Linked DNA regions of Homo sapiens. The protein of the gene in region 1 purifies or fractionates together with the protein of each later gene. This does not show direct contact. Each region holds a gene or a part of one and is shown in the gene's direction. Other genes may lie near its edges.

Region 1 (3,500 bases):
TTCCATAATTTATTATAGCATTAAAAAAACTATTGCCAGAGGCTCAATTAACAAGGTTTTTATGGTTTCCTAAACTAAACTTTACTCACATGGAGATCTCAGTGTTTTTTGTTTGTTTGTTTGTTTTTAATGTAATGCGTTAAGTAATGATTTTTAAGTATTTTTTTGTTGAGCATCTGCTGACATAGTAAGTTACTGCACCTTTTGACTGTGTGGTGGAGAATTCAGAGATATAGGAGATGTGCTTTGCTCTTGGTGATATTATATCCTAGCAATGGGGATAGTGTAAGCATAAATAATAGGTAAGAAGTGGATCAATGCAATGGAAAGAAAGGATTAATAGTGTTTTGGCAGGTTAGAAGGAGAGAAGAGGAGAGGATTTTTTTTTTTTTTTTTTACTTTGGTTGGTCGTGTGGGCTGGAAGAACAGAGCAGATCGTTAAATACTTTGGAAAAGAAGTAACATTTGTGTGGACCTTGAAAGGGGTAGAGGCTCAGGTTTACACAGATAATTACAAGGTAGAAGGCTCTCTGTTCTCTCCATAAATGAGAGATACCATCATATATTTAAAGCTATAGAATTGGATGAGATCATCTATACTTGGTGAGTATAGCTAAAGAGGTAAAAGGATTGAGCCTGGAGCTTTCCCAACATTTAGTGGTTAGAATGAAAAGGAGGAGCTGGCAGAGGAGACTGACAGGGATAAGCTGGTGAGACAGAAGGAAACTAGCAGAATGTGACATCCCTAGAGCCAAGTGAAGAGTTACAAGAAGAAAGGAGTGATCAGTTTAGTCAAATGCTTAGTGGTAATGGAGTAAAGTGCTTTCTAGAAGGTAATCTGAGCATAGAGATGTGCGTAGGTTAAGTGCAGAAAAACAGCAAGTAGTAAGAGTTGGGTTGTCCTGCTGCCTATTGTATGTGTGAAGAGAAATAGTTTAGAAATGGGGCAGGCAAGGTAGGTTGGGATAAACTCTTATAGTCCTTGTTGGGAATTTCTGAATTGGAGTAGTGGAAATTTCCCTTAGATTTTTTAAACCAAGTAAGGAGAAGAAATATGATAGGCAAGTTTTGAGCTGATGTATTTGAAAAATAATATTAACTTGTCAAAGTTTATAAATTGCTGTTCATCATCTGAGAGCAGAATTTTATGGGGAAAAAAGGTTTCAGATATGTTGGCATTCATTATGACTGAATTTGAAGGAATTCTGGACTTGTAAGACACATGCTTAATTCTAACACATTTGTATAAAGAAGCTGCCATATTTTTACAACTATTTGTTAAGTACAGAACTTCAAAAATACAATTTTATTTTAATATTAGAATGCTGTTTTCATTAGTTTTTCTAATGATAGTTACCAAGGTTTTTTTCTTTGTAATAAAGAAGTTCTGTAAAATTATTATTAAGCCTTTTTCTCTTCGTAAATCTTAATACTGAAGCTTTTTTTTTTTTTAAAAACTAAATATTAGGTCAAGACAATCAAGACACTTCCCCTCTTTTATGGAAGCATAGTAAGATTTTTTCTTTATGGCGATCATGATGGAGAAGTATATGCTACAGGAGGAGAGGTTCAAATTGCAATGGTAAGACAGCAAGTGATAAAACATACTGAAAGTTTCTTGATAACACTTTTGCATAATTGTTAAGATACAGTATATTTCGCTAGTGACTAGTTTTCCATTGGATAAAGTGGTTGTAGTTTTTGTGTGGATTTTTATGTGTCATAAGTTGATGTTTTTAATAATCTATACAATTTAACATCATATGCTCAGTTTTTGTAAACATATATACATTATAACTAGTTACCAAATTAATTTTATAAAGTCATATTTCCTCTAGGGCCCACTAACTAGTAAACATTGGAGCCAGAATTCTATCTCAGCAATGAGTAACTACAAAACTGGAGTGGGTTTTTTCCCTATACCATGCTTTCTTGTTAATGTTTGATATGTTAGGACTACAGAGGTTATATAAAAAATATAAACAAACATTGTGGTGTAACGTAAGAATAGCTACTGTTATTTATGTACTTAATTAGGATAAAATATATTTCTTTGGAAGAAACAAATGGGTGTTTGTTTTTATTACAGCTAGATTTAAATAGTTTTCTTTGAAATGTTGGTAAATGTATTTATTCAGGAACCTCAGGCACTATATGATGAAGTAAGAACTGTGCCAATTGCAAAGCTGGATAGGACAGTTGCTGAGAAAGCTGTTAAAAAATATGTAGAAGATGAAATGGCAAGGTAAGTCACACTTCAAGATGCATGACAAAAATAAGAAAAATTGGAAAGAATTGTGCTGTAAGTATTCTGAGTATGTCATTTACTCTGCTGTTAGGGCATTTGTAGTCTTAGATATTGTACCTATTGAGATGAACTTCTTGTTGAAAAAAATTAAGAGGTCTAGTTATACAAACAGAATTCTGCATTTGTTTTGTAGACAAAGAAGGAAATCTTATATATCTAAAGTGTCACTTTTATAGGCACTATGATTAACATGTTTTAAAAAAACTCAGTTTGGCCTACAACTAGGATATTACAATACCTGCTGAGAGGTAAAGATGAGTGTATTAGTTCGTTTTCACACTGCTATAAAGATACTACCTGAGACTGGGTAATTTATAAAGCAAGGAGGTTTAATTGACTCAGTCGTGCATGGCTGGGGAGGCCTCAGGAAACTTATAATCATGGCATAAGGCGAAGGGGAAGCAAGCCATGTCTTACATGGGCGGCAGAAGAGAGAGAGAGGGAAGGGGGAACTGTCAAACACTTTAAAAATCATCAGCTCTCGTGAGAACTCACTATCAAGAGAACAGCATGGGGGAAACCATTCCTGTGATCCAATCACCGCCCACCAGGTCCCTCCCTTGACACCTGGGGATTAGAATTCGAGATGAGATTCGGATGGGGACACAGAGCCAAACCTTATCAGTGAGTTATAAAGAAGAAGAAGGAAGTAGAAAGTGGCTTTTCTTCTTGTATAGCTAATGATGCAATCATTTTGATTCTTACTGAATTTTGATTCTTAGGGGTTATCCTGTCTTCTAAAGGTAATTTGTACTATAAACAAGTAGAAAAAAAAAATCAACAAAAATTTGACAGTTTCTGGCTTTTAATTCCAAAAGGTTTTTTTTTTTCTTCTTCTTTTTTTTCAGTAGCCACAGGAATGGTTAGGGAGGAAAAAAATTTTTAGATGATTAATCGTAAAGAATTCCAGATTTAACCTTTTAAAATATATCAGCAATAAATATTTAAGTTTCTAATAACTCGTATCTTTTTAATTAAGATCATAATTAACAAAGTTTGTGGAACATTAATATGCTGGTTTCATAACAGGCTCCCTGATAGATTGTCAGTAACTTGGCCTGAAGGAGATGAATTATTGCCTAATGAGGTTAGGCCTGCTGGAACCCCTATTGGTATGTTTGTTTATTTTTCTAATACCAAAAAGTGTGCTTTTCTTTTGTCTTACATTTCCAATATGTAAAAGGTCACGAGA
Region 2 (3,500 bases), on another chromosome or scaffold:
TCCTGCCAAATGAAACAGGGCTTCAGCTGGGACATCAGGCTCCAATTCTCACCACTTGTTCATTTGGAGTCTGATGTGCATTACAGCCATTTTGTAAACAGTTACCTGACTCTCACCTCAACCAACAGGAACTAAAAACAGGCTTGTTGGAAGTTTCACTATGCTAAGTCTGAAATATTGGACATGAATTGAACCCCAGTGCTGGACAATTGAGGTTAACACCTAATCATTTATTCCACTGATATTGACTAGGCATTTACAAGGTACTGTGGTAGCTGGCTCAGAGCTGAGGGGATACCACGATAAATAAGACAGACACGATCCCTGCCCCTTTGTACTTTGTCTAGTGAGAGAGACAGACAGAAAAAAAAAAATCAAACAGACGGGTTGACCAATGAGAAATTGTGGCCAATATTATGAAAGATGCAAGCAAGGTGCTGAGCTGGGGAGCAACAGGAAAGATGGGCCCTTCTTTAAATAGAGTAGGTGGGGAAGGCCTCCCCGAGGAAAGAGTATTTAAGCTGGGACCCTGAAGTTGTGAGGGATCCAGCCATGCCAAGAGCAGGGGTAAAAGGAAAATTCCAAGGGGAGCCCTTGATGGAAGATCCCACATCCTCCACCAGGAGTGAGGCACAGTGTCACAGTGTTCAGCATGGTGTATCACAGGAGATGAAGCAGCAGCCTTTAGATCTGGGACATTTTACTGAAGGAGGCCAAGGAGCAAGCCCTCTTGTTTCACCCTCCCTTGCCTTTCCTTACCAATGTTTTCCTCTTCTTGTGGATGTAAAAAATAAAGACGGATGAACATCTGGTCTGAAGTGAGCGTTCTCAGCAGACCATCCACATCTAAAAGAAAGCAGATTTCACACGGATTAGGACCTCGTTTTAATATGGCAATCCACACTTCTTTGACTCTAAGTTAATGATCGCTCCTTTAAAAATGTTACTTAATGTCATTTTGCTCTCTTTGTAAAGGAGACTTCAGCTGTTGTTGAAATTAAAAGTTGTTACAGAAGAACAAAGCTAACATGACCTTTATGTTCATTTCCTTTTAGATGAACTGGGAAGTGAAAACGTGAAAGTGTAAGTTTTCCCTGCTGCTTCTGATCCACCTGGGGTGTGAACAGCAACTGTTAAGGTGGACAGCTGCCTTTTCAGGTGTTTTTGTTCTGACATCTTGCGGGACTCTCCTGCTTCCCAGGCGGGGTTGGAGATCCTTGGCAGCCTGAGGGAGGATGTGCTGGCATCCCCAAACCCTATCCAGCGTGTGAGTGTGATCTGGGCAAAGACAGCTTGGCATCTGTTTTATTTCATTGTCCTACATTCAGAAAAGAATCCTGACTGCTACCAATTTCAAGTGCATAGCAGTTAAATATTCTATCCCTAGCTGTATTTCAAGGACATTGGTTCATTTACTCTGATTAGAAATTTTATCACCAGGAAAGATACTTGAGCTGGTATTTAGCAGGGAGCCCTGGTCGAAGCAGAAGTTCACACAGCAAGAACCCCCAGGGATGGGAGAGAGAGAGGAGGAGAAGGGAAGAGTGGGAGGAGCAGGAGGAAGGGAGAGGAGGGAGGGAAGGAGGGGTGGGAGAGAGAAAAACAAGCCTCCACTCAGAAGCATGTTCTGGGGTGATGCCATATCCTCCCCATCTTCCAAGCAGCCTCCTGGTTTAGAAACTTTATCGCTTCCTCTACGCAGTGTACCGCCTACGCTGCTTTCAGAGCTGGTGGTCCATCCTTCCCCAACCCCATCTCCACTAACCACGGACTCTGTCCCCTGACTGTGCACTTTGAGCTTCTGCAAGTGAGGGCGGTGAATTTCTGAAAGCAACTGCTCCATTTCTCCAAGAGAGAAAGGCCTGGGAATTGAAGGGACAGGTGATAACTGTAGCCTGTTGACAGTGGCCTCTTGACCTGGGGCACTGATCAAAAAACCCCAAGGAACAGGAAGTGAAATTAAGCAAGGCTAAAATGCTTCATATGGCAACTCCCCGGAAGGGCCTCACCCTGGGAGCCTTGCAGACTTGACTTTGCACCTTCAGGGGAGCAGTCAGCCTCCTGGGTTCCCTTTTTTGTCCACTTGTTGGGCCTGTGGGCACCCCACTTTTGGACCTGTGATAAATGTATGTTTGTTTGTGTGGTAGCCTTTCTTCCTATTAAAGTTTGGTAGTTTGGAATAGGGCAAGCCCCCAGGCTTCCCTAGAGCATAAGGCACTGAATCAAGTTCATCTTCCTCAGGATCAGCATTCTAGTCTCTTTCCAAATGAAATTAGGCATCTTTCACATTTCTTTCTAACAAGTCTTTTGCTCTCTATTTCTAGCCCTATTTTTGAGGAAGATACACCCTCTGTTATGGAAATTGAAATGGAAGAGCTTGATAAATGGATGAACAGCATGAATAGAAATGGTATGTGGTAACCTAAAGTTGTTTTTTTTCTTTCCTCTCTAGTAACAGAAGGCTGCAACAGCTTTATAAATATCTCAATAAATCCTGGAGTGAGACAGAAGAACCCAATCCCACATTAGATCTGGTACATGCAGATAATAAACCTGGTCTGACAATACTTAAATATTCAGCTTAATTGTTGCCACTTGTTTTTATTTCTGTACAAGTTGTTGAAATGGTCTTTTTGAAGCAGAAAATGGTATTTTATTCAAGAAAGGAAATCTCTGAGGCCAAATGATCTGGAAAAAGTTAGCATCTGGCATTACCTTATACATTACAGAATTTAAAGATCTACAATTTTAAACTGACTATGGATATAAAACTTTATCAAATGTAGTATCCATAGATCTGTGCTGTTCAACGTAATAGATAATCACCAAATGTGGCTATTTAAATTTAAATTAATTAAAATTAAAATTAAAAAATATTGAGTGTTTAGTAGCCAATGGCTACTAAGTGGACAGTGTAATGTAGAATATTTCTATCACTTTAGAATGCTCTATTGGACATTGCTCATGTAGATGGTGATATACATACCCCATATAACAATTTCCAATTGATATCTGGCAGTAATGGAAGTATATGTTCCTTACTTTTTAGTAAATCAATAATGGGACTTTAAAATGATGACAGCTGCTTTTTCTTTTTCAAATTCCCTTTAAAAATTAATTATTTTTACTACTTAGATTAAATGAATAAAACCCAGCATTATCATGTCATTTGTATTTTTTACCATTTATCTTAAAAAAATACCCTAGGGTCTGTCAAATTCAACACTCTACAGTAGAGTTAGAAAATTCAGAGACTGGTTATAAGAACTATTACTACCAGGCCAGGCACGGTGGCTCACGCCTATAATCCCAGCACTTTTGGAGGCCGAGGCGGGTGGATAACCTGAGGTCAGGAGTTCGAAACCAGCCTGGCCAACATGGTGAAACACCATCTCTACTGAAAATACAAAATTAGCTGGGTGTGGCACATGTCTGTACTCCCAGCTACTAGGGAGGCTGAGGCAGGAGAATAGCTTGAACCCAGGAGGCGGAGGTTGCAG

The links. Proteins that work in one complex are often made in the same cells at the same time.
Region 2: the proteins of SMCHD1 (region 1) and TMEM154 purify together in Homo sapiens (co-immunoprecipitation; one large-scale study listed by IntAct). This does not show direct contact.

What each region holds. Positions count from the first base shown.
Region 1 is NC_000018.10:2,704,226-2,707,725, forward strand, and holds part of SMCHD1 (structural maintenance of chromosomes flexible hinge domain-containing protein 1), read left to right. Parts: intron 1-1,468; coding exon 1,469-1,582; intron 1,583-2,138; coding exon 2,139-2,245; intron 2,246-3,337; coding exon 3,338-3,420; intron 3,421-3,500. UniProt on the Homo sapiens protein: Non-canonical member of the structural maintenance of chromosomes (SMC) protein family that plays a key role in epigenetic silencing by regulating chromatin architecture.
Region 2 is NC_000004.12:152,641,998-152,645,497, reverse strand, and holds part of TMEM154 (transmembrane protein 154 precursor), read left to right. Parts: exon of another isoform or gene 1-818; intron 819-1,055; coding exon 1,056-1,083; intron 1,084-2,324; coding exon 2,325-2,410; intron 2,411-3,500.